Linked DNA regions of Homo sapiens. The protein of the gene in region 1 purifies or fractionates together with the protein of each later gene. This does not show direct contact. Each region holds a gene or a part of one and is shown on either strand. Other genes may lie near its edges. The genes, in order: GFPT2 and ACOT9.

Region 1 (15,740 bases):
TCCCTCACGCGGCCTCATCCCACTCATGGGCTGGGTTCCAAGGAGCCAGCAGCTCTCCTGGTTAAGTGCCATCGTTTTCCTGTGCACTCCTGGGAGGCCAGCACCACCCTAGGACCAGGCTGCCTGCCTCCTGACTGAGGCCCAGGCCACTGGCAGAGCTCTGGGAGAGGGGACATCCGCATTCTCTTGGGAAGATGAAGTAGGCTGAGAAGTCAGTTAGAGGTGGGCGCGGAACCTGCTTTGGCGGGCACTGGCCCTGACACAGCTCAGGGTGAGGTGGAACCATGGGGACGGGGAAGCATGCCACATACCGTTGCCTTTGTCTGAGCGCTGAGGGTGGCTGTTGACAGCACTGGGGACCCCGTGGGTGGCCCAGCGCGTGTGGGCAATGCCGAAGTGTGTCTCAAACTCCACTTTTAAGTCCATGCTGTCTTGTTCTAAATGAAAGGAAAATCAGTTTGCCGCACTTGAACAACAAGCCTCGACCCAGGACTGTGAGTGCAACCTGGTGTCGTTACCCAAGTCACGTCACCCACACCGATGGCACCTCCCCACCAGCTCCCACCCTGGGAGTCCGCGCAGGCCCACAAACCACCCGTGCTGAAGGTTATTTACTACTTGTCTGTAGCTTAGCTCACTTCTTCACAGAAATAAACTTGCTTTAAAAAGAAAATGATATATCCCTACCATAAACAGAGAAGCAGTATCATTTGCTGGAATAATTAAAATAACTACTGTATGTAACCCTTCACACTTAAAAAAATTATCCATGCGCCGCCACCACCTAAAATAAACCATCCCATACCCTGCGAAGCCCGGTTTTACAGCACGGGCTTAGCCCTCCCTCTGTTTATCTGAGCTGGGACAAAGGAGAATCTCCATTCTCCGGCGCTGTTGGAATACGGTCCTAGAAAGCGGCCGGCGCTGCAGCGGCTCCTCCCACTCAGAGGTCCTCCACTTACTGTAAAGTTCTTCATCGAGAGCCTTGACTTTCCCCCTTTTCTTGACCAGCTGAATGTGTCTTTCTTTGACTTCGTGATTATTCCCATCGATCGCCACACCTGTGATGTAGACAGCATTTGTTATATTGCAACCAAAGCTTTTTCTCACACACTTGGCACAGGTGCTCCGCAGGGTCAGGGCTGCATGCCCCGGGCTGTCCGTTTATGGCAGGTTGGAGAGCTGTACAGTTTTCAGGAAATCTGCTCTGAAAGAGGCTGTGACTGCGGCCAGGCTTAACAGCAAGTGAGGAAGCCCCTGCCTCCTCCAGGCCGCAGCTGCCCCCAGCCCTGCTCCTGCCTAGCTAGGGTGAGCCCCTCGGGACACTTCCCCGCTGCAGGCGCTCCCAGGCCCTCGGCTGATGGCAATGGGCCCAGGCAGGGCATTTATCCCAAGGGCTCCTCGCATTGTGATATTTCGTTGGTATCTCCACTGCGTTAGTGTTCCTCCCGTCGTCTATCGGACGTGCTTCCTATTAAGAGTCGACAAGGATTTAAAACCATCGGGCTCCCCCTTTCTCCTCAGGCTGCATAATTAAACAAGGTCAACAGACTAAACATCCACCTTTGCAGTGAATGGAGGCCTGAACTCTGGGACAGCCACCCAGCGGAGCATTGTGTAGCCACTTAGAAAGCTACTTAGAAAGAGTTTAGGATCGGCCGGGTGCGGTGGCTCACGCCTGTAATCCCAGCACTTTGGGAGGCCAGGGCGGGTGGATCACAAGGTCAAGAGATTGAGACCATCCTGGTCAACACGGTGAAACCCCGTCTCTACTAAAAGTACAAAAATTAGCAGGGTGTGGTGGTGGGCGCCTGTAGTCCCAGCTACTCGGGAGGCTGAGGCAGAAGAATGGCGTGAACCCAGGAGGCGGAGCTTGCAGTGAGCTGAGATCGCGCCACTGCACTTCAGCCTGGGTGACAGAGCGAGACTCCATCTCGAAAAAAAAAAAAAAAGAATGAATGAGTTTAGGATCCTAGAAATGCCAAGTGAAAAGAGAAGAATATAAAATTACAAAATTGCATAATTATAATTAGGTAAAAACAAAAAATATCAACGTACAACACCTCCACCACAGACCACCCCCACAGACAACAGCGACCGGAGAAGGGTCCCAAAGACTGATGGGGGCTCCTTTTTTAATGAAGCCACCTCACTGAGGCAGGGCTGACAAACACAACGCTGCGCATACTTAATGTCTACAACTCGATGAGCTTGGAGGCACGTGTGCCCCCATGAAACCACCACTGCCGTCTATGCCATCAACCTATCACCTCCGAGAGTCTGCTCCTGCCCTCTTTATGTATTGTTCTGTGTGTGATAAGAGGACTTAGCATAAGCTCTACCCTCTTGGCTGGGCTCACTGGCTCACACCTACAATCTCAGTGCTTTGGGAGGCAAAGGCAGGAGGATCGCTTGGGGCTACGCCGGGCAGCACAGTGAGACCTCATCTCTACAAAAAATAAAAAATTAGCCGGGTGTGGTGGTGCACGCCTGTAGTCCCAGATGCTGAGGAGGCTGAGGGTCGCCTGAGCCCAGGAGCTTGAGGCTGCAGTGAGCCAATTTCTTGGAACTGCACTCCAGCCTGAGTAACAAAAATAAAAATAAAAATATGAAAATCTACCCTTTTGGCAAATTTTTATGTGCAAAATACAGTGTTGCTCAAGTCAGGCACCGCACGGCAGAGCAGCTGTCCAGGACTTACTCATGCTGCATGACTGTGGCTTTGTACCCTTTCTGCTTCCTGATGGGGGGACTTCTGATGAAGGGGGTTTTCTGGGGTTTTTTACCCTTGCTTCTTCTATTTTTCCATAGTTTTCGAATTTCTTTAACGGACAAGTGTTATTTTTATATTGAAAAGAGACGTTAAAAAGTAGCAGAAAAAATGCCCTGGTTGTAAACCCCCCTGCAGTGGAGATGGGTGAGACCACAGCAGCGGAGCCCGGTCCCCAGCCACGAGGCGGGCGGCCGCACACCCACCTGCCGAGTCGTAGCCTCTGTACTCCAGCCGCTGCAGGCCCTTGATGAGGGTTTCGAAGATCTCCTTCCTCGTCCGGGGGACTCTGTAGTTCATGTAGGCAAAGATTCCTGTTCAAAGAGAAAAAAATGGTGCATTCATAAAATACTCAGCTCGTGTTTGGAAGAAAACGCTTCTGGGGGATGCACCGAGGTGGCATCACAAAGGTCTCCCAGGGGCTTGCAGAGGTGGGTATGCCCCTCCCTGAGCACAGCTGAAGAACGGTGCACCCCTTCTTCCTCCTGTGACAAAAACCCCCAGAAAGCCTGTGTCACATGTCTTGGGCTGGCAGTTCCACTGCTGAGAACTTATCCTATGCTGTACTTGCAGGAGGCAGCTTTCAGCGTGGCAATGTCCATAATAGAAAAGGCAGCAATGAAATCCAACCGCCTTAGGACATCCGGAAGTCCCCACCTCCATGCACTCCCTGATTTGCAGAGCACACATCTAGGAGTGCCATAGAAAGGGACAGCAGCCCCCAGGGCAGATGGGACAGGCGCTGGGGCCTTTGCTTCCACGGTCCCCTTCTCCGTAAGGCTGGAACTTGACCTTAAATAAGCACTACTTGAGCCGGGGGCGGTGGCTCATGCCTGTAATCCCAGCCCTTTGGGAGGCCGAGGTGGGTGGATCACCTGAGGTCAGGAGTTCGAGACCAGCCTGGCCAACATGGTGAAACCCCATCTCTACTAAAAATGCAAAAATTAGCTGGGTGTGGTGGTGTGTGCCTCTAACCCCAGCTACTCGGGAGGCTGGGGCAGGAGAATTGCTTGAACCAGGGAGCTGGAGGTTGCAGTGAGCCGAGATCGTGCCACAGCACTCCAGCCTGGCGACAGAGCTAGACTCTGTCTCAAAAAAAAAAAAAAAAAAAAAAGCACTACTTTTATGACAGCAAGAATAAAACCATCTCATGCCCCTTGGCCCCTGCAGAATCCTTATGTTCAAGGTAGGCCTATGAGTCAAGAAGATTTTGTTCCACTTGACTTTCTGTATTCATATTTCAAGATAATTTTCCAAACAGAAAGTTAGCCGTTGTGTTGGTTCTGCCTTCCAGATTCCTCCACTCCTTGTTTGTGATGACAGATCCTTGATGTCCTCTCTCCTGCCCTGTGCATGCCCCATCCTCATCCCATCATCCCTCTGTCCTTTCATCCTCGCTCCCACTGCTCAGGAAAACCTGCCCACTTCAAAGCTCAGCTCCAGCCCCCGCCCTGGGCAGGTGTGCTCCTGGCTCTGGCCACCTCAGTGCTCTCACGTCATGGGACACCCACAGTCCCCACCAAGGGCACAGGCTGGTGCTTCTATCTTTGTATTCCTCACTGTGTGTTGGCACCCAGTCCTGTTCACATGTGGAACAGAATATGTGATGAGTGTGTATCTGTATCCCTGGAGGGAGGCAATAGTATGGGTCATAGAAATGTCACTGGGTTTCAGGCATATTCACGGTAACTGTCCTAAGTTGGCTTGGGCTGCTGTAACAAAATACCACAGACTGCCTGGGTTATAAGCCACAGATGTTTATTCTCACAGTTCTGGAGGCCGAGAAGTCCAAGATCAAGGTGCCAGAGATTCAGTGTCTGGTGAGGGCCCGTTCCTCACAGACAGTGACTGCTCATTCCAACCTCATACGGTGGAAGGGGCCAGGGTCTCTCTGGAGGTTTTTTTTTTTGTTTTTGTTTTTGTTGTTTTTCTTTTTTGAGACAGAGTTTCATTCTTGTTGCCCAGGCTGGAGTGCAATGGCACGATCTTGGCTCATGGCAACCTCCGCCTCCCGGGTTCAAGCGATTCTCTTGCCTCAGCCTCCCGAGTAGCTGGGATTACAGGCATGTGCCACCACACCTGGCTAATTTTGTATTTTTAGTAGAGATGGGGTTTCTCCATGTTGGCCAGGCTGGTCTCGAACTCCCGACCTCAGGTCATCCGCCCGCCTCGGCTTCCCAAAGTGCTGGGATTACAGGCGTGAGCCACCCTGCCTGGCCTGCAGGTTTTTTTTTTTTTTTTTTGAGACGGAGTCTAGCTCTGTTGCCCAGGCTGGAGTGCAGTGGTGCCATCCTGGCTCACTGCAAGCTCCGCCTCCCAGGTTCACACTATTCTCCTGCCTCAGCCTCCCGAGTAGCTGGGACTACAGGTGCCCGACACCATGCCCAGCTAATTTTTTTTTGTATTTTTAGTAGAGATGGGGTTTCACCATGTTAGCCAGGATGGTCTCAATCTCCTGACCTCATGATCTGCCCACCTCCGCCTCCCAAAGTGCTGGGATTACAGGCGTGAGCCACCACGCCTGGCTCCGCAGTTTTTAAATAAGGGCACTCATCCCATTCGTGAGGCCCATGTCCCTATGACCTAATCGCCTCCCCAAGGCCCCACCTCCTAGTAAGACCACCATGCAGCTGAGGATTTCAACAGATGAATGACGGGGGAACAAACTCTCAGGCCACAACAGCGACTCGCCTCACTGAGAAGTCCCTGTGGGCCGGGCACTGGGCCACCAGTTCCCACAGGGTCATCCTATGCTCAAAACAGCCTCTGAGGCTAGTCCATGGCCCTCCTCTTAACTTCTGGACCAGAGCCACAGGGGAGCCTGTGACTCGTCCAGAGCCAGAGTGGAACCAAGAATCCCCGACTCAGGACTTAAACACTCCTACCCACTGGCCAGTACCCCGGGATGGATGCCACGAGGGTTACAAGAAGGTTTATTTTCCCAACTATGTTTTGCTGGGATGAGAGAAAGGTCTGATCAGGATTGAAATTTTTCCAGAGGTGAACCTCAGAGAGGACAACCTGCCCCTAGATAACAGACAGCTGATTGTGATTATATACGAAACCACCTGGAATATCTCTGGTAATTAAGAAGATCAGATTCATGTCAATATGCTACATCTGAATAAATGATAAACTTCAATGAAATGAATGTTATATTCCTAAACAGTGAGTGGGGTCCCATCATATAAACTTAATTAATCTATAAACAGTCAAAAATAGGCAATAAAATTAAATAGTACTATAAATTATACTTAAATTCTTACTGAAAGCTACTGTACACAGGATATGTTTGCACATATGTATTAAGGTGGGGGATTTATATATAAAAATATGTACACTATGCTTTCTGAGCAGTTACAGGCGTTTTCCTTTAAAATCAGCCAAGGGCAATTTTCTCGGTAGGCTATTTTTGTCTTCCTTGCCATCTTTAGATCAGGTGAGAGGAGCTGAATGTATGGGCTGTGTGTGCAGTTCAGGCCCTTCTCCGGCAGGGCCAAAGTGTCCCCAGTGAGGGCCGCGCAGCACTGCTGCTGAGTATTTATGGTTCCAGAGGCTCACACGACAGCCCCCAAACATCTGGGCATGGGAGGTACTTTTGTCACCTTATTTTTTAAAAAGATAGTTATTTTTTGATATGGTTTCGCTGTGTCCCCACCCAAATCTCATCTTGAATTGCAGCTCCCACAATTCCCACGTGTAAGGAGGTAAATGAATCATGGGGGCGGCTCTTTCCCATGCTGTTCTCGTGAGAGTGAATAAGTCTCATGAGATCGGATGGTTTTATAAAGGGGAGCTTCCCTGCACACACTCTCTTCTCTTGTCTGCCGCCACGTGAGATGTGCCTTTCACCTTCCACCATGACTGTGAGGCCTCCCCAGCCATGTGGAACTATGAGTCCATTAACCCTCTTTCTTTCGTAAATTGCCCAGTCTTGGGCACGTCTTTATCAGCAGCATGAAAATGGACTAATACATCTTTTAATGTCAATTAAAAAATTTTAACAGCTTTCTGGAGACATAAGTCATGTACCGTAGCAGCCTGCCATCTAAAGCATGCGATTCAGTGGTTTAGTATATTCAGAGTTGTGCAATTATCACCATTCATGTTTAGGTGAAATGTTTTTTTTTTTTTTTTTTTTGAGACAGGGTCTCGCTCTGTTGCCTAGGCTGGAGTGCAGTGTTGTGATCTCGGCTCACTGCAACCTCGAACTCCCAGGCCCAAGCTATCCCCACAGCCTTGGCCTCCCAAAGTGCTGGGATTACAGGCATAAGCCACAGTGCCCAGCCTAGGTGAAACTTTTCATAACATTAACTCTTCTAAAAACAACCAGAGGCCAGCGCAGTGGCTCACGCCTGTAATCCTAGCGCTTTGGGAGGCCAAGCTGGACAGATCATGAGGTCAGGAGCTCAAGACCAGCCTAGCCAACATGGTGAAACCCTGTCTGAACTTAAAAAATAGAAAAATTAGCTGGGTATGGTGGTGCGTGCCTGTAATCCCAGCTACTCAGGAGGCTGAGGCAGGAGAATCTCTTGAACTCGGGAGGCAGAGGTTGCAGTGAGCTGAGATCACGCCACTGCACTCCAGCTTGGGTGACAGAGGGAGACTCCATCTCAAAAAGAAAAAAAAAGGAAGAAAGAAAGAAAGAAAAAAACAACAACCAGAAAGTTCCCTGTGGGGACATGGTCAAATTGTGGTCAATGTAAAGACCACAGTTAAGCGAGGGAGGGAACAACTCAATAAAATCTGTTAGAGTCTTTTACACTGAACTTTCCTGGCATCCTGGGCTGGGAATGTTCTAGAATTATACTTGTACCACCCTAAGGGAAGCAGACAGACATCACAGATGACACAAAGGTTCAGAAATGTACCCATTGCCAACTCTGAAAAGGTTTTGCATCTGAATGATGTTCCCGAGTGCATAATGAGTCAGCTCTGCAACTCCCCCCTGCAGCTCCCCCACCTCCCAGCCACACTTCACTCCTGCACACGTCAGGCGAGAACGTTCGGCACGCTCCGCAAGGCACCGCTGACTTTCAGACCCACGACAGCCTCCTGGACAGCAGCGGGGGCATAAGGGGTCCTTGTCCTCAGGACCACCAGCTGTGTCCGTACCCAGCCAGGAGGCCCGGTGCCCACTCAGGCACAGCAGGGGAGCTGACTGCAGTGAGAAAAGCTGCCAAGGAGTGTGGTTTTCACCATCTTGGCGCAAGAAAGCATAAATCTCATTTTCACCACGAGCCCTCTTGCGTAGTGACATCCCTTCGGTCACTTCTTTCATGAAGGAAGCTCTGTTTCTTTGCTTTTGCAGCTCATCCTCTTGGCTGGATCCTCCCTGCACTCTACTGCACTCAAGTGAATAAAATAGCGTTCACGCTGTGCTCTTATCATTTAAAAATAAAACACAGAATAAAATGAAGCTCCTTTCCCAGGAATTTCTCCTGCTATTTACATCAGAATTCCCTTTTGGAATTCCTTCCATCCATAAATAAAAGCTACAGTGAGAATCCACTTTTTTAAACCCATGAGGTCGGTAAAGATCAAACAGTTGGACAGTGAGAGTTTAAACTCACATACCCTCTTTGGAAAGCAATCTGGCAATCTCTCAAAATTAAAAATGTACACATCTGTGGACCAGAGCTGTTGGGCTTCTAAGAAGGTATCCAGCGGACTTTTTGCAGAGATGCATGTGCACACGTGCGAGGACAGCTGCTCAGGGCTCTTGTGGTTGCCAAAGACTAGTGACAGTCTGATGTCTGGCAAGCGACAGGCAAGGGACAGGCAAGGGACAGTGCAGCCACACAGCAGGGCCTTTTACAGGCAGCCCTCAACAGAGAGCAAGGGAAAGCTGTGCATTCTCTTGGAAGGCAATTTAAATCTCCAAGATGTGTCAAGGGAAAAAGAAGCTTGCAGAATATGAGTAAATTACGCAAGGGCTGGGGGAGGAGCATGGAGCATTTCTAGAAGGGCACCACGCCCAGAGGGCAGTCAAAGGTAGCCTCTGAGGTCACTGGATGTTGAGCAGAAACTTCCTTTCCACTGCACGTGTCCTCTTTAGATGGTTAAGACATTTCACCGTGTGCCATGGCACATGTGCCCCTATGTGAATTAGGTGGTGATGAGTACATCACCATTATCTAGATGCCAGATAATGTCTAAATAAGCAAAGACTTCATTCTATCCACAGGGGGATGTCCTAGCCAAGGCCTGAGGGTTAACATGGACCGACTGTTTGGACAGTGGTGTACATGACGCAGACCTGCCTGGTTCACCTGGATTTCCTGTGGCACAGGCATTCTGCTGAGTGGGACCTGAGAGCTTCTGGGTACAGGAGGAGTGACCGTGCGGCACCTGGGACCCCCAGCCAGGCCGGACCTCTGGCTGGTTCTGCTTTCCACCGGTGCTTGAACCCTCCTGGCATGTCCGAAGCACCAGGGCCACAATGGCCCTTCCCTCTGCAGGGGACGCCAGGCCTGCCCTGGCCAGGCCTTCTTGCCCCTCGACAAGAGGGGCCGGGCCCACCTGACTTGGCTGGTCCCCTGTTCCACTCCCCTGGAAGAGCAACGGCCATAAGAGGGCTGTAATAAGGGGCAACCTAAGCACATGCCCCAGCCTTAAAAACACCAGCCCAGGGCCACCCGCCTGGGTTGGCTTCCTCCCTGCTGCTGCCATTCACCAGCCAAGGCATACCCAGAAGCACAGAGGCCGTGGCCAGTGCCGGAACCCACCTCGAACCCCAGCTCCACCCCTTGATTTCAGTGCACTCTCCAGCAAGCCACTGAATGTTCGGACCTCAGTTTCCCTGTCAGTGAAACAGGGTGATGGCTACAATAGTGCCTGCCACAGGGCAAGGAGCTTGAGAAATTATCCCTTGAGAGATTTATCATTCAATAAAACCAAGGGGGAAATAGTACCATTTACTGTCATTTCATCTTGGCCTTCTGCCTGGGGAAATAATGGTTAAACCAAATGCGTTACTTGGTTGTGGCTTGGTCAAGATTTAATTCATCTGTAAGCAGTTCTCAGGCCCACAAGGCCGCGTTGCTGTACTAGGTGCTGCAAGCTACTGGGATGGACCCATCGGGGGGCCTCACTGAGCGCTCCAGGGAAGGACAGGGATGCACAGGGACCTCCCAAGCCCACAGGGGAGGTGGGAAAGGGCTTCCCGCTGGGGTGGGAGTAGGCAGCTCTTTGCAAGGCTGGCTCTTGCTAGCTCTTCGCAAAGGCGCCTCTGACCCATTCTGCAGGTTTTAGCAGATCTTTCCCACCACCTTCTCCAGCCACATAGCCCTGGTTATTCCACGCTGCACTTGCTTCCTTGTCTTTTTCTTCGGCTCCCCGCTGGATTGTAACCTTCTGGAGGATGGGACCACATCTGTCTCATCCATTGCTGAGTCCCCAGCACCTGGCCCAGGGCCTGGCACATCTTAGGTGCTCAATAAATCCATGTTGAGTGAATGAATGAACAGATGGAGGAATGCCAGAGAAGGTAGCCTTTGAGCTGGGTCTGAGACAGCCACGTTCAGCCAAGCATAAGCAGCTCCGCTCACTGGGACCCACAGCAAGGACAAGAGGGACACAGAGGCAGGAGGTCCCTGAGTGCCAGACCCTTACAATGGGAGCACGGTGCCACCAGAACTCTCGGTTAACCCCAAGATAATCAAACACAGAGGCTTACATCCCCCCGCACAACACCCCCGGCCCCATGCACCATGAGGATCCCAGGACTGGCATGAGGACAGCCTTCTAATCAAATGAGCCAGGGCCTAGGGAAGGCTCCCAGAACCCTGCTGGGTAAACCACCATCTACAGTGGCTCCCCGCATGCCAACCCTTCCCGAGCTTCACCTCCTCTAATCCTCATGACATCCTGTGTGAAGAGACTGTGGTTCCCAGGGATAGAGATGGCATCGGAGGCTCCACTGCCAAAGACTTGAGGAATTCACAGCCAGGTCTGCCTTTTTGCAAGCCTGGGCTCACCACTTCTACCCCCACCTCCCCACAATCAGCATAGAAACCTATCCCAAGAAGAAAGGTATAGCTCACACAGAGGGTCCCTGGCTTCTGAGGAGATGCCCGCCTAGCACCAGATGGGTCCAGGACAGGTGCTGCCCCCTGAGAGCCAAGCCCCACCACGGGACAGTCCAGCTTCCAACTCCACCTTTCTCCTCCTGTTCAGCCCCCACCCCACCAGGGCCTCGGTGACCACGGCAAGGCAGGTTCCAGCTACATCCCTCTCTCGTCTTCTCTGCCCCGCGGGCCCACCGCGTGACGTCAACCCCTCCTGCTGTCTGGCCTGAGCCCGCCTTGCTCCCCATGCCACCCTGCAGCTTCCGCCCTCTGGGTCCCACTCCTGCAGGGTGCCCTCAGCCCAGTGCGTGCGCCCCTGGGGCCCCCAGGCCTATGCACATGTGATGCCTTCTCCAACCCCCTACCCCAGATGAAGATCTTTTCCCTCCTCTGAACCCCTTTTTCCAACTTTCCGTCCCCTTTTCAAGGCATCTGTCACTTTCTACCTTGATCTACTGCTCTTTCCTAGCCTCCACTCCCAGGGCTGCCCACGGCGTAAGAAAGGCATCACTGGCAGGCGACAGGATTTTAAATGAGCTGAGAACGGGGCAGTAAATAACACCAAACTTCTTTGGGGGAAAGTTTTCCCCTTTCTGTTACTCTTCTTAGCTTGGAAATCTCCTTGCAGAACTGAGAGGGAACAGACATCAGGCCTAGCAAACCTGGGAGCAGTCTTATTTCTCACATTGAAGAGACAGGGGATGGACCCAGCCAGGTGGGGGATGCTGAGCGCCCAGAGGGGCTGGACAGGGAGGTGCCTTCAGGTTCCCAAGAGCCTGCAGAGGGTTGGGATTGAGAGGCCAGGAGAGCCGAAGGCAGGAGAGCCTGAAAATGCAGGCTTTATGGAAAGTCTGAGATACAGGAGCCTGGAGATCTTTCTAAAGAAAAGGAGCACTTTGCAACCTCTGCAAAGATGGCCCTGGGCCAAGCATCCTTCCTACCAGCAGGAGAGCCCAGGTGGCTTGGAGAAAGGCCCGGCCTGGGGGCAGAGGCTGCCCTGGCCCCACCACCCAGTTTGGTCATGTGCCCTGTGGTCACCCACCCAGAGCTTCCAGACAGCCTTTCAGGGCCCTATCCTCAAAATTGATAGATAAAATGAACCGGGAAAGGTCCCAGAAGGAGAGGGACCGAGAAAAACTCAAGGGGATTCCAGAAGGGATTCGACATGAGCCCTCCGAGAGGAGACTGTAGCCTCTTGGCCCCGGCTCACTGCTATATTCTGGGGCTTCCAGCACTTTCTCTGCACAAGGCCCGAGAGATCACACAGGAAGTCAGGAGCAAAGACATCATGAAGGGGCACGCAGGCAGGGCCTCTGAAGCTCAGGGTTCAACCCCCAAGTGACAGATAACGACAATGGCCAGCGCAGGGAGATGATATTCCCTGGACACCCAGCCAGAAGGTCAGCCACACTAGGGCACTGAATTCCTGGGATTTCCTCTACAGCCCCTGGAGTGCTGAGCGTGGGGGTGGAGGGGAGGGATGATTTGCGGCCTGGGGGATGGGGAAGACACCACTTCGCAGCAGCCAGGTTGGGCCCACGTTCTGATTCTGGTGACGCTTGTTTTGAAAAATCTCTCCAACTTTCCAAGCATCGGCTTCCCAACGAAAGCCCAGCCCTCACTCTGAGTGAGGGGACCGTTCCAGGGAGAGGCCCAGCCAGTGCTCCACACAGGACAGGTTGGCTCTGGAAGCTATGTCACCACCCACCCAGGCCAGGACTCACCCCTCAGAGATCTGTCTTTCTCCCACCATCTGTTGCTTCTCCGAACTGAAGGGGCTGACCTTTATAGTCCATGAGCCTCCTAGAGATTAGGTATCATCCCAGGTCCCAAACTGGATTACTTCCTGCCTCAACAGAAGAGTACGGCCAGTTGAATGTCTGCCTCAATGAGGGCTCGTGAAATTCCCGAGCGTGTGCACGTGTGTGCCTGGGCCTGCCTGTGTGTGTTGGGGGAAGAGGGACAGGTCCACTCTCCTGGGTGAGGCCCACAGGTGTGGAGAGTCCCCTGGGCCTTGGGCAAGGGCTGCTGAGGAGCTGTGGCCTCTCATACACTGGGAAAGGTCACTTGGTGAAGCAGGGATGACAATTCCTGCCACCTCCTTGCAGAAACAAGATCAAAGCTGGAGGTGCCGCGGATGCATGTGATCCCACGCCAGGCTCTTACAGAAAGACAGAGGAGCCTGCGGGCCTGGCGGGGGCCCTGAGCAGACGCGGCACCTGGCTCAGGGTAAGAAGGGGACTTGGCTCCCCTGGAGACAGCCCCAGACTGCCCCAGGCCTCTTTGGGACCCCAGGAGTTAAAGTGACCTCACCATTGGAATCCATGAGATAATAGACTCTGCTTCCTGTGGTAACCTGGACAGGACATTTCTTTTCTTTTTTTTTTTTTTTGTTTTCTTTTTTTGAGACAGGGTCTTGCTCTGTCGCCAGGCTGGAGTGTAGTGGCACGATCTCGGCTCACTGCAACCTCTGCCTCCTGGGTTCAAGCAATTCTCCTGCCTCTCCTTCCCGAGTAGCTGGGACTACAGGTGCGTGCCACCACACCTGGCTAATTTTTTGTATTTTAGTAGAGACAGGGTTTTACCATGTTGGCCAGGATGGTCTCGATCTCCTGACCTCGTGATCCACCCACCTCGGCCTCCCAAAGTGCTGGGATTACAGGTGTGAGTCCCCGTGCCCGGCCATTTCTATTTTTTAATAGAAAAGTTGCCAGTGTCCCTTTCATTCTTACAGTTTCACCAAAAACAAAGAGGGAAGTGATATATATTTAATTAAAAGAAAAAAAAATCTTAAGAAAAGAAGGGGACAGGTACAGTGGCTCATGCCTGTAATCCCAGCACTTTGGGAGGCCGAGGTGGGAGGATGGCTTGAGCCCAGGAGTTCAAGGATGCAGTGAGCCATGATTGCCCCACTGCATCCCAGCCTGGGTAACAGAGTGAGACTCTGCCTCTAAAAATAAAAATAAAATACCTAAATAGTTTAATTGTTTTATTGTGAAATTCATTTTCAGAATTTTCTCTCAAACTTATAACCTCAAATTAATCACTCTTTATAAGCTAATTTTGCTAGATACAAAAATAATCTCTCAATTGAAAAGCACTGTTTACTGATGCTATACCATAAAGTTATAAAAAGAAGGTTTTTCTGAACTTGGGAATCCCCTGAGGAGACAGTGGAGGGCTGCAGCCAGCACAGAGACTGGAGCGACACAGCCACAAGCCAAGGAACGCGGCAGCCCCAGGAGCTGGGAGAGGCCGGCGACAGATTCTCCTCAGAGCCTCTGGAGGAGGCTCAGCCCTGAAGGTACCTTGATCTGGGCCAAGTAAAACCGATTCTGGACTTGTGGTCTCCAGAACTGTGAGCGAATACATTTCTGTTGTTTTAAATCAGTAAGTTTGCAGTCATTTGTTACAGCAGCCAGTGGAGACGAACACACCAACCAGGACAAAAGACGGTGATGTCAAGGCAAGGGCTTCACCTTCTGGCAAGAACTAAGAATTCTCCAGCTCTTCACAGTGATTGTTTTTTTTTTTTTCTCCCTCACAGATTACTAAGTGCAGTATGGGACGCACAGGGACAGTTTACAAATTCGTGGATGGGAAGCGCAAATCCTTCCTGCCAAATCCCCATGCATGCCTGGTCCATGCTGCCACACTCCAGCTCATGCTGTGCCCCAGCCCAGCGTGCCTGCCACCCCCTCCTCTCTGCAGGGCCCGTGCTCGTGTCTGGGTCCTTGTGGCACTGCCCCAGGTCCCTCCCCTTCTTCCTAGGAAGGTCAGCTCCTGCCTCTGTTGTGCAGAGTCCCATGAGTGAGGGAGGCAGCTGGGAAGGACTGGGAGAACAGGCGAGTTTGTGTCCATCACCCAAGGGGTCACCCAGGCCCTATTTGGAAATAAGGACTCCAGGTTGCTCATCTTCAGATTTTGTCAAGAGAAGCCAAAACTCCCACCTACTTATGTGAAATCTCCCAATTTTGTACTTTGGTAACTAATAGAGGAAAAGGTTTAAACCCTGTGCACCAAACAAAAAGATGTCTGTCTTCCCTGTTCGGCCAGTACTCTACCAGGCTGTAGCCCGTGCTCAAGGTCCTCCCTCCACAGCAGCACTGCCCTGATCGGCATCCCGTCCCTGCTGGTGACCAGTCTCTGGACTAGCCCTGCGGCTCACCTGCCCCTTCTTTGAGGGGAGGACCACACCCATGAGATCTTCGAGTCCCCCAGGGCCTGGAAAACACTGGGCATTTCCACTAGTGGCTGAATGAAAAAGGAAGCAGAGAAGGAAAGGAGAGAGACAGGGAGGAAATATTGTAAATTTTCTGTCGCAGAAAGTCAGCAAAATGCCAGCAACTTTCAGATGTCAATAAAACCAAAGTGTCATTTCAGCTAAATTCTCAGTGCACTGAAAGTTTTTGAGAATCATCTGCTGTTTGTAGAGGATCAACTACTGCCGAGTCCTGGCTTCCCATGAGAGAAGCAGCAGGATAAAGGACAGCAAGACATAATCTCAGCAGTGTCATCAGCCAAGTGATAAGGAAGGGCCTTAGGTCTCCGCCCCTGAGGGAACGGCCCAGGAGATCTGAGACCCGAGGCCTGCTCAGACGCCAGGTGCGCACAGACTTCGCAGGGCCTCAGCTTCCCCAGCGTAAAGTGAAGAGCTTATCTGGTTCTTTCTAGGAGCATCTTCACGATTCTTGCAGTATCCTTGTACTAATAGCATAATCACTACTTTTTCTTCTGCAGAATTTGATTAAATTTTCAAAAATTTAAATGAATTCATGCCAAAAGAAAACAACCATAAAAGGAAAATCAGTATCACTTGTCATACATACTCAGACCATCATCCCCCCCAAACAGACCAATGTATTCAATTCTAGCCAGCTGCTGCTGCCTGCTCTGAGCCA
Region 2 (10,416 bases), on another chromosome or scaffold:
TAGTGCTTTTGACTCACATTAACCCCATCAATTCTCTTGGGGGTCCTGGATATCTCTCTCTCTCTCTCTCTCCCTCTCTCTCTCTCTCTCTCTCTCACTCACTCACTGTTCCTGGGGACTTTGTTATCAGTTGTAAGGGTTCTGTCTTGTTTATAGTACTTAAAAACAAACAAAAAACCTTTGTTAAACTATTTGAAGGCAGACTGAAAGTCATTATGAGAGGGGCCACAGTTGACTTTAGCTTGCAATGTGAAAGGTCTTCTACAAAAGCTCCATGGTCTTGTTCAGGTGCTTTCTCTTATAACCCTGTGTTCCTTTCTTGAAAATTCTATTGAGGCCGGGTGTGGTGGTGCACGACTGCAGTCCCAGCGTTTTGGGATGCTGAGGTGGATGGATCACTTGAGGCCAGGAGTTCGAGACCAGCCTGGCCAACATGGTGAAACCCCGTCTCTATTAAAAATACAAAAATTAGCCGGGAGTGGTGGTGCATGTCTGTAGTCACAGCTACTTTTGGAGGCTGAGGCAGGAGAATCGCCTGAACCGGAAGGCAGAGGTTGCAGTGAGCTGAGATCGCGCCCCTGCACTCCAGCCTGGGCAACACAGTGAGATTCTGTCTCAAACAAAAAACTATTGAACCTTAAGCGGATAATCTCTTAGTGTCTAGTGAGAGGAGGAGTTCACAAATGAATATAGACTGAGATGATTAGGTTCTTTGACTGGTGGGCAACCTTTGTAGCTTCTTTTCTTTTTTAGACTTGCAAGAGGCACCTTTGTTTAGTCTCTAAATAGAGGTTATTTCCTCAGAGTGGAGGGCATATGAGTGGTATTGCCTGTTATTGCACTGAACACTCTTCCTTGCCAACTGCTGTAAGCTTGGGACCCAGGGCTGAGCCAGGGTGAGTTATGTGACTCCCCAGGTAGGCCATGGAGGCCTTGAGTTTTCTTTTTTTTTTTTCTCTTTGAAATACTTTTTTTATTTCTTTGGGATATATGTCCAGAAGAGAAATTGCTGGATCATATGGTAGTTATATTTTTAATTTTTGGAGGAACTGCCTCATTATTTTTCAAAATGGCTGTACCAGTTTACATTTTCACCAATAGTGTACGAGGGTTCCCTTTTCTCTACATCCTCACCAACACTTGTTATCTTTTGTCTTTTTGTAATAATCATCTTTTTATTATTATTATTATTATACTTTAAGTTTAGGGTACATGTGCACAATGTGCAGGTTAGTTACATATGTATACATGTGCCATGCTGGTGTGCTGCACCCATTAACTCGTCATTTAGCATTAGGTATATCTCCTAATGCTGTCCCTCCCCACTCCCCCCGCCTTGAGTTTCTTGATCTCCTTTGATTGGAAAGGTTCAGTTACAAGGTCCTGGGATTTGAGTGTTGCAAAGGCCTCTCCACAGTAAAGGCCTAGAGGTTTTGCTATAAGTAAGACTCCTGAGGGCTTATCAGGAGATAAGCCAGTAACCCTGAGGTACTGAAGTGTTGAGTATTGATTAAAACCATTCTCCCACCTCCTCCACCTCAGTGCGGTGTGTGTGTGTGTGTGTGTGTGTGTGTGTGTGTGTGTGTGTGTGTATGTATTGGGGGAGATCGGAAGAACTGGGCTCTATCTGGACTCTGCTGGTGTGCCTGTTGACTGGCACTGGGGGAAAGTCGTCTGAAACTGGGGCCTCAGTTTCTTAAGGAGGTTGGTTTGAATCAGAATCTTCAAATATAGGGGGATCTGAGGGTACAAAAAGGGTCTGTGCACCTCCTGAAATAGTATATACCATTGTGTGTGTGAGCAAAAATGTATTCCAACCCTTCCCACGCCCGCTCGAGGTCCACAGTTTCCATCAGATTATCAGTAAATAGGATACCAAATGTAGTGAAAAGTTACCATTACATGCCAGGCGCGGTGGCTCACGCCTATAATCCCAGCACTTTGGGATACTGAGGCGGGCAGATCACTTGAGGTCAGGAGTTCAAAACCAGCCTGGTCAACATGGTGAAGCCCTGTCTGTACTAAAAACACAAAAACTAGCTGGGCATGGTGGTGCACAGCTGTAATCCCAGCTGCTCGGGAGGCTGAGGCTGGAGAATCGCTTGAACTCGGGAGGTGGAGGTTGCAGTGAGCCAAGATGTTGCCACTGCACTCCAGCCTGGGTGACAGTGAGACTGTCTCAAAAAAAAAAAAAGTTACCATTACCCGAATACTCTTGAATGCTATGTTGACAGTATGATATAGATTTATTATTACCAATATGCTATTGGTATAAGCAACATTTTTTTAAAAAGTGTTCCAATTATGCCTTTGTTGTGCCACAGGAATGTATTTCCAAATTTTTTAAGGCAGCATGCAAAGCAATGGGGCTCTAGGACTACAATTTTCCAAATAAATTGGCCCAAGTGTTTCTCTGTATTCATTAACTCCCTTCTTTTCTCTCCTCATTTGATTCTATGTTTGGCAGTGGTCCGTGATAGTGCCTGGCTTAGGCTATCTTTCCTTTTTTTTTGGAGACAGAGTCTTGCTCTTTTACCCAGGCTGGAGTGCAGTGGTGCGATCATGGCTCACTGCAGCCTCGACCTCCCCGGGGCTCAAGTGATCCTCCCACCTCAGCCTCCTGAGTAGCTGTGACCACAAGTGTGCACCACTACGCCTGACTAATATTTTAAAATTTTTTTGTAGAAACGGGATCTCCCTATGTTGCCCACACTGGTCTCAAGTGATCCTCCCGCGTTGGCCTCTCAAAGTGCTGGGATTACAGGCGTGAGCCATTGTGCCCAGCCTGGTTCTTTTTGATCTTTAGGGGAGACTTTGGAGAAGCATGACTTTCTGGAATAATGATAGCTAGAGATTTTTGAGGACTTGTCAGTATATTAGACATGCTCTTCTAGACGTGCCCTTCAGGGTTTAATATGTGTTAATTCCTTTATCCTTTTGACAATCCTATGGGATAGGTAGTATTATTATCCCCATTTTACAGATGAGGAAACTGAGGATCAGGGAGGTTAGGTAACTTGTCTAAGGTAACTCAGCTAACAAGCAGCATGATTGGGCTCTTTTTTTTTTGAGACAGAGTCTCGCTGTGCAGTGGCACGATCTCGGCTCACCGCAGCTTCCGCCTCCTGGGTTGAAGCAATACTCCTGCCTCAGACTCCCGAGTAGCTGGGACTGCAGGTGCCCGCCAGCATGCCCAGCTAATTTTCATATTTTTAGTAGAGACGGGGTTTCACCATATTGGCCAGGCTGGTCTCAAACTCCTAACCTCAAGTGATACGCCTGCCTCGGCCTCCCAAAGTGTTGGCATTACAGGCATGAGCCACTGCGCCCAGCCTTTGGGTTAACCCCTATACTGTATTGCCTCTCACACAAACAGGATGGAATGATTTTCATCCCTCTTCAGAAAATGCTGCTTCTTAGTGTAACAAAACAATTTCTGTGTATATGTGTATTTATTCAGGTATGTGAGACTGGTTATATAGCTCCTGTTAGTGATGCGTATTCAGGGTATTTAGCCATTCAGAATCAGATCCCATTTCTTATGTTGGATACATTTAACGTGTCTATTATAGTTCCTATTAATGTGTTGGGGGTCATGATTTTTTTGCTCTTTCAGCTAATGGTAGCAATAGAAAGGATTAGCTTTTTCCAGTGTGTTCTTTAAAACCAGATATATTCAGTTGTAGAATGCTAGTTTCTTTTTTGAGATGGAGTCTTGCTCTGTTGCTCAGGCTGGAATGCAATGGGGCCATTTCAGCTCACTGCAACCTCTGCCTCCTGGGTTCAAGTGATTCTGCCTCAGCCTCCAGAGTAGCTGGGACTACAGGTGTGCGCCACCATGCCTGGTTAATTTTTATGTTTTTAATAGAGATAGGGTTTCACCATGTTGGCCAGGCTGGTCTCGGACTCCTGACCTCAGGTGATCTACCCACCTCAGCCTCCCAAAGTGTTAGGATTACAGGCATGAGCCACCATGCCTGGCTGCTTGTTTCTGAGATGGAAGAATGAAGGAATACTTACTCTGTTTCCTTCAGTAAGGCATATGAACCTATAGAAGATACATAAAACAAAATAATGAAAAAAATGGAAAATTCAAATCACGTTCTGAGAAAATGCAGATTAGATGGTCAAAAACAAAAAGACGGCCAGGTGCGGTGGCTCATGCCTGTAATCCCAGCACTTTGGGAGGCCAAGGTGGGCAGATCACAGGGTCAGGAGTTTGAGACCATCCTGGCTAACATGATGAAACCCCGTCTCTACTAAAAATACAAAAAATTAGCCGGGCGCGGTGGCGGCGCCTGTAGTCCCAGCTACTCGGGAGGTTGAGGCAGGAGAATGGCGTGAACCCGGGAGGCAGAGCTTGCAGTGAGCCGAGATCGCACCACTGCACTCCAGCCTGGGCGACAGAGCGAGACTCTGTCTAAAAAAAAAAAAAAAGACAAATATTAATCTGTATACGAAAGTACAGGAATTGAATATTTATCGTGAAAAAGTGAAGCTAAAATATTTAAGAGAGAGGCTTGTTAGCTGTGTGATTGAAGAATAAACAGATCCAAAACCCCAAACCCTCCAGCAAGAATTTTGGTCTTAGTGGACCAGCAGGGATTGTATTGCAACCAAATAAGATGACTGGTGACTAAGAAGTTCAATTAGCCAATGAGTATGTGCTCATATTTCTGTGTTCTGTGCAATTAGATGATTTGACTTGGTGAAAGGATAAGGATTTGTTCTAACAGCACAGTGTCAAAACTGCATGTAGATTTTACAGAATACTGTAAATACTGAGAGGCTTTCTCTGAATGCTGTCATTCAGAAGAGAAACCTATAGTAGCTTGGTCTGTAAAGAAAACTAAAAATATCTCTTTTTTTTGTTGTTAGTCATTGCTTATTCCCACATTAGGTGGTGAGAATTTACTAGTAAATTGAACTGGAATGAGTGACAGTATCTGGGGTTCTGGGTTTTTTTTGTTTGTTTGTTTTATTTTTGTTTTTGTTTTGAGACAGAGTCTTGCTCTGTTGCCCAGGCTGGAGTATAGTGGTGTGTTCTCGGCTCACTGCAACCTCCATCTCCTGGGTTCAAGCGATTCTCCTGCCTCAGCCTCACAAGTAGCTGGGATTACAGGTGCCTGCCACCACACCCGGCTAATTTTTGGATTTTTAGTACAGACAGTGTTTCACCATGTTGGCCAGGCTGGTCTCGAACTCCTGACCTCAAGTGATCCACCTGCCTTGGCTTCTCAAAGTGCTGGGATTACAGGCATGAGCCACCACGCCTGGCCTGCGGGGTTCTTAACCTATTCAGTGCCTTGCCTTCTTCAACTGTGCTCTCACAGATCAGTTTATTAATCTGTGATATTGCCTGTGTGCTACCCCTGACATAATATTGTGTGATTAGGAGTCAATGCTTAAGCAATAATGAACCAAAATCAACTTATTTTGGGAGAGTAGGTTAGGCACATTTAGGTAGACAGCTTTTATTTTTTATTTTTTTGAAGCAGGGTCTCACTCTGTTGCCTAGGCTGGAGTGCAGTGGTACAATCTTGGCTCACTGCAGCCTCGACCTCCTGGGTTCAAGTGATCCTCCCATCTGAGCCTCTTGAGTAGCTGGGACCACAGGTGCATGCCACCACGCCCGGCTAATTTTTGTATTTTTTGTAGAGATGGGGTTTTGCCATGTTGCCCAGGCTGGTCTTGAACTCCTGGGCTCAACCTGTCTACCTGCCTCAGCCTCCCAAAGTGCTGGGATTACAGGCCTGTGCCACCGTGGCCAGTAGATAGCTTTTATTTTATTGTGTTGGGACTCTAGAAAATTTCTGCGTAAGTTAAATAAATACTTTCTTTGCATCTGGAAAGGGCTAATTCAATTTTCAAAGTTTACTTTATAATTGGGTTTATCTTATTTATTGAGGAAATATGGTGCGATAATAAAGAACAGAATAAATTGTTCATAATGAGTTTGCTCAGTTGTTTACTAAATCGATTATGGACTTCTGAAACTAATAAAATAGAAAGACCAATAATAAATGCATTAAACCTAGTTGCCGTCTTTTATTTATTTTGTAGATAATTACCTAATTGGTCTCTGCTCTCAAGAAATGTTTACTCTAGTGGGAGAGATGATTTATGGAATAGCCTCATGAAAACATACATATACTTGTGAAACAGCTACAGACTCCTACAAGACAATATATACTAAGGGTGATATGGCCAGATACTCTGGGAGGAGGGTAGGTCTTTAGGGTTGCCAGGGAAGAAGCTGTGGGATCTGCTCTGTGTTTTATCTTGTTTTATAGGCTTTGTGCCTTGGGCAAAGGGCAGCTTACTCCTGGAAGAGGACTGACTCAAGGACCCCAGAACCCCAAGAAACAGGGAATCTTCCACATTCATGAAGGCAAGCATGGTGTCTCTGTTTGATGCCTATGTGGTGAAAAACCTTGTTTTACTTTTATTTGAAAGGTATATAGAGTGATAGTTTAGAGCAAATGAGGCATATTAAAGGTAGATCTTTCATAAACATTTCATTGACAAAATGACCAGGATAGCTGCATAATATTAATAGCTTCAGATAGAAGTCACATTCAGATTTTGAACTATTGTTCCTGGGAGCCTTGAGGACTGAGCTCTTTTAGTTAGGTGATTTCCACTTCCTGTGTGTAGGTTCTGAAGGCATGGAAAAAAAGAGATGGGCCCATTAGTTGTATCAAGTAAACACTCCTAGTCCATAGTTATGTTCGAGGGATCCTGTTAGTCCATGCTTAATTAAAGTTAATTTCAATTACCAATATGATACGTAAACTATGGATTGTCTTTATTAAACTAGGAGTATTCGTTATAATTAAAATTGCGGCTTCTTTAAAGGGTCCAAATAAATTTATATTATGTGTGTATATAAATATATATGTAAGTAAAATTAAAAAGTTTTTCCTTCTTGGCCCTCAATACTTGCCTCTCTTCTTACACTGATTAAGCTAGTAGTAATTATTTTATGTCAGTGAGCATCAGTAGTCCATGTACTATTTGAGGTACTTTCTGTCCATTCTTTTTTTTTTTTTTTTTTTTTTTTTTTTTTGGGATGGAGTCTTGCTCTGTCACCCAGGCTGGAGTGCAGTGGCAGGATCTCGGCTCACTGCAACCTCTGCCTCCCTAGTAGCTAGGATTACAGGCATGCTCCACCACGCCCAACTAATTTTTGTATTTTTAGGAGAGATGGAGTTTCGCCACGTTGGCCAGGCTGGTCTTGAACTCCTGGCCTCAAGTAATCTGCCTGTCTTGGCCTCCCAAAGTGCTGGGATTACAGGTGTGAGCCTTTTTTTTTTTTTTTTTTTTTTGAGATGAAGTCTCACTCTGTCGCATAGGCTGGAGTGCAGTGGTGGGATCTTGGCTCACTGCAACCTCCGCCTCCCAGGTTCAAGTGATTCTCTGCCTCAGCCTCCTGAGTAGCTGGGATTACAGGTGCCCACCATGCCAGGCTAATCTTTGTATTTTTAGTAGAGACGGGGTTTCACCATCTTGGCCAGGCTGGTCTTGAACTCCTGACCTCATGATTCACCCACCTCGGCCCCATCCATTCTTTTATTCAAGGAACTTAGGAGGAAAAAATCAGAAATAAGACTAAGTTACTAATGGTTGTTGTTTGCAGTTCTCTAACATTTAGTTGTAATTATACATCAAATTTATGGTGTATCCAAAATTGTTTGATAGAAAAATCAACCATTTTTCATGAAAGTTAAAATGCATGTTCATATAAATTATATTTGGTTTTGATCAGTTAGTTATTGAAGGACTGAGGATTGCTATAGTTAATTTCCTATAACTGGAATGTATATTTTGAAGTGCTAGGAAAAACACATAAACTCAACACAGTATTTGAAATACTACAGATTTATCTTTTAGTTTTGAATTATTGCTGGTTCTCTAATTGATTTTCCCTTTATTCATATAGCATGTTCATCTATACATGTGAATCATGGTGTGTGTGGTAATTAGTATCAGCTTTTCTTTTAAGAGCTTAAATTTTGTAAGCACTAATATACGCTTGCACTTTTGGGCAGTGGCATTAACTAAAATTGCATTCTTTGCCTTAGCTTGATGTAAGTCTTTGCTTCATTTTTCTGGCTTAAACTTTTCTAACAACCAGGAGACTATAAATATATGAGAAATTAATTATAATGAGACTCAGATTTGGATATTAGTATTAGTCTCTGAACTAAGTAATTTGATCTATTACTGCGTATAAGAAGATAGGTGGGGGCCAGGCGCAGTGGCTCACACCTGTAATCCCAGCACTTTGGGAGGCCGAGGCAGGCGGATCACCTGAGGTCAGGAGTTCAAGACCAGCCTGACCAACATAGTGAAACCCCATCTCTACTAAAAATACAAAATTAGCAGGGCATGGTGATGCCTGCCTGCAATCCCAGCTACTCGGGAGGCTGAGGCAGGAGAATCACTTGAACCCGGGAGGCGGAGGTTGCAGTGAGCTGAGATCGTGCTATTGCACTCCAGGCTGGGCAACAAGAGCGAAACTCTGTCTCAAACAAAACAAAACAAAACAAAACTACAAAAATTAGCCGGGTGTGGTGGCACAGCGCCTGTAATCCCAGCTACTTGGGAGACTGAGGCAGGAGAATCGCCTGAACCCGGGAGGTGGAGGATGCAGTGAGCCGAGATTGTGCCACCGAACTCTAGCCTGGGTGACAGAGTGAGACCATCTCAAAAAAAACAACAAAAAAGAAGATAGGTGGGAATCCTGTTCATATCTCCATCATAATGGCTCTTACTGGCTAACACTGATACAGCCCCATTAAGTGAATAATTGAAGTTATCCTTTTTTGTTTGTTTATATAAACCCTAGTGATTGGCACAAAGGTATTCATTTGTGCACCTTTAAAGAGACAGTATAGTTCTTTCAGGTTTTTAGGGAGCAGAGGCTTGATCCTGTCCCTGAGCTGTTTGTTGTGGCATTAAATGGAAATCTATGGATCTTTAAATCTTTTGAGTGCATGAATTGCTTTTTGTAGTTCTTGAGCTCATTGCCATAATCCGTTTCTCATATTTCTTTGTTTCATGGAATGACCTCTTTATTTTTGTTTCAGTTCGAGATAAGTTGCGGGAGATAGTAGGAGCATCCACAAACTGGAGGTATGCATCTTTGTTTTCATTCATTCTTTTCATCCCCAAGGTATTATACTACACTGTATTTAGGCTCAGTTGATGGTCTCACAGTGGGGATGGGGAGCCCTATGTTCAGAGATAGGTTGAGAAGTATTTTGCTTGGGGGAGAAGGTCAACATTTCAACATACTCATCAGATGACACCTCATTGTCATGAAAGAAGATGATTTACGTATATTCTGCATTTTCAAAGTGCATTTAGGTGTATATTACTTCACTGATTCTCATAACAAAACTTGTGACGTGCTTACGACATATGTTCCTGTTCCTTTTTTTACACATGAAACTGAAACTCAGAGATTGAATGATTAAATGTCAGGGTTTGGGACTTGAACCCAAGTCGCTAAGTTTCTCTGTTTCATGCAACTTGACTCCTTTATTGCTTCTTGTCAGTTCAAAATTAGTCAGGCCTCCCATATTGTCTTTCTCTTTCTCGCAGTATTTCCTTGTTGTAAAGTAGGATCATATCCCTCTTGGTGTACATAATTTTGAGGCTAAAATGAGATAGAAAAAACACGAGTGATCACTAGATATATAATAATCTATTGTTGGTATAGAAATTATCTAATGACTTATTTTTAAATTCTTTATATGAAAAATTTCACTTTACTAAAAGGTAGAAAGAATGAATACCTGTGTACCCACCACCTGGATTCCATACTTATTAATATTTTGCCAAATTTTCCAATATACACATATTGCCTGAACCATTTCTAAGTAAATTATAGACACCATGACACTTCAGCGTGCATCTTCAGTAAACATTTTATAAAACCAGCCTTCGCTTATCTCCAACAAATAAGACATTCTCTCATGTAATCAAATTGACAGCAATTCCTTGCTAGTATATTACTCATCCATAGTCACATTTCCTCAACTGTTACCATTTTGTGTAATAGATTACTCCTTTTAACAAAAATGTTTTTATAGCTGTTTAAAAAACATCAAGATCCAATAAAGGATTGCATGTTGCATCTGGTGGTTATGACTCTTTAGTCTTCCCTAATCTAGAGTAATGGACAGTCGTCCTTCCCCTATTCTTCCCCCATGAGCTTGACTTTAAGGAGGCCAAGCCATTTGTCTTGAGAATGTTCCACATTCTGGATTTACTGGTGTCATTTAACTCATTCCTCTATCTCCTGTAGTTTTTGTAGGGTAAACATTTCTGGAAATAATACTTTATAAGTTAAGCTTAGAAAGACATCTTAGCTAATGTTCTTATCAACATTGTCGTTCCGTATCCCCT

Evidence for each region.
Region 2: the proteins of GFPT2 (region 1) and ACOT9 purify together in Homo sapiens (affinity purification with mass spectrometry; 2 studies listed by BioGRID and IntAct, with this or other methods). This does not show direct contact.

What each region holds. Positions count from the first base shown.
Region 1 is NC_000005.10:180,335,517-180,351,256, forward strand, and holds part of GFPT2 (glutamine--fructose-6-phosphate aminotransferase [isomerizing] 2), read right to left. Parts: intron 3,085-15,740; coding exon 2,977-3,084; intron 1,062-2,976; coding exon 963-1,061; intron 438-962; coding exon 312-437; intron 1-311. UniProt on the Homo sapiens protein: Controls the flux of glucose into the hexosamine pathway. Most likely involved in regulating the availability of precursors for N- and O-linked glycosylation of proteins.
Region 2 is NC_000023.11:23,731,894-23,742,309, reverse strand, and holds part of ACOT9 (acyl-coenzyme A thioesterase 9, mitochondrial isoform a precursor), read left to right. Parts: intron 1-6,293; coding exon 6,294-6,391; intron 6,392-7,942; coding exon 7,943-7,969; intron 7,970-9,092; coding exon 9,093-9,138; intron 9,139-10,416. UniProt on the Homo sapiens protein: Mitochondrial acyl-CoA thioesterase. Catalyzes the hydrolysis of acyl-CoAs into free fatty acids and coenzyme A (CoA), regulating their respective intracellular levels. Regulates both mitochondrial lipid and amino acid metabolism.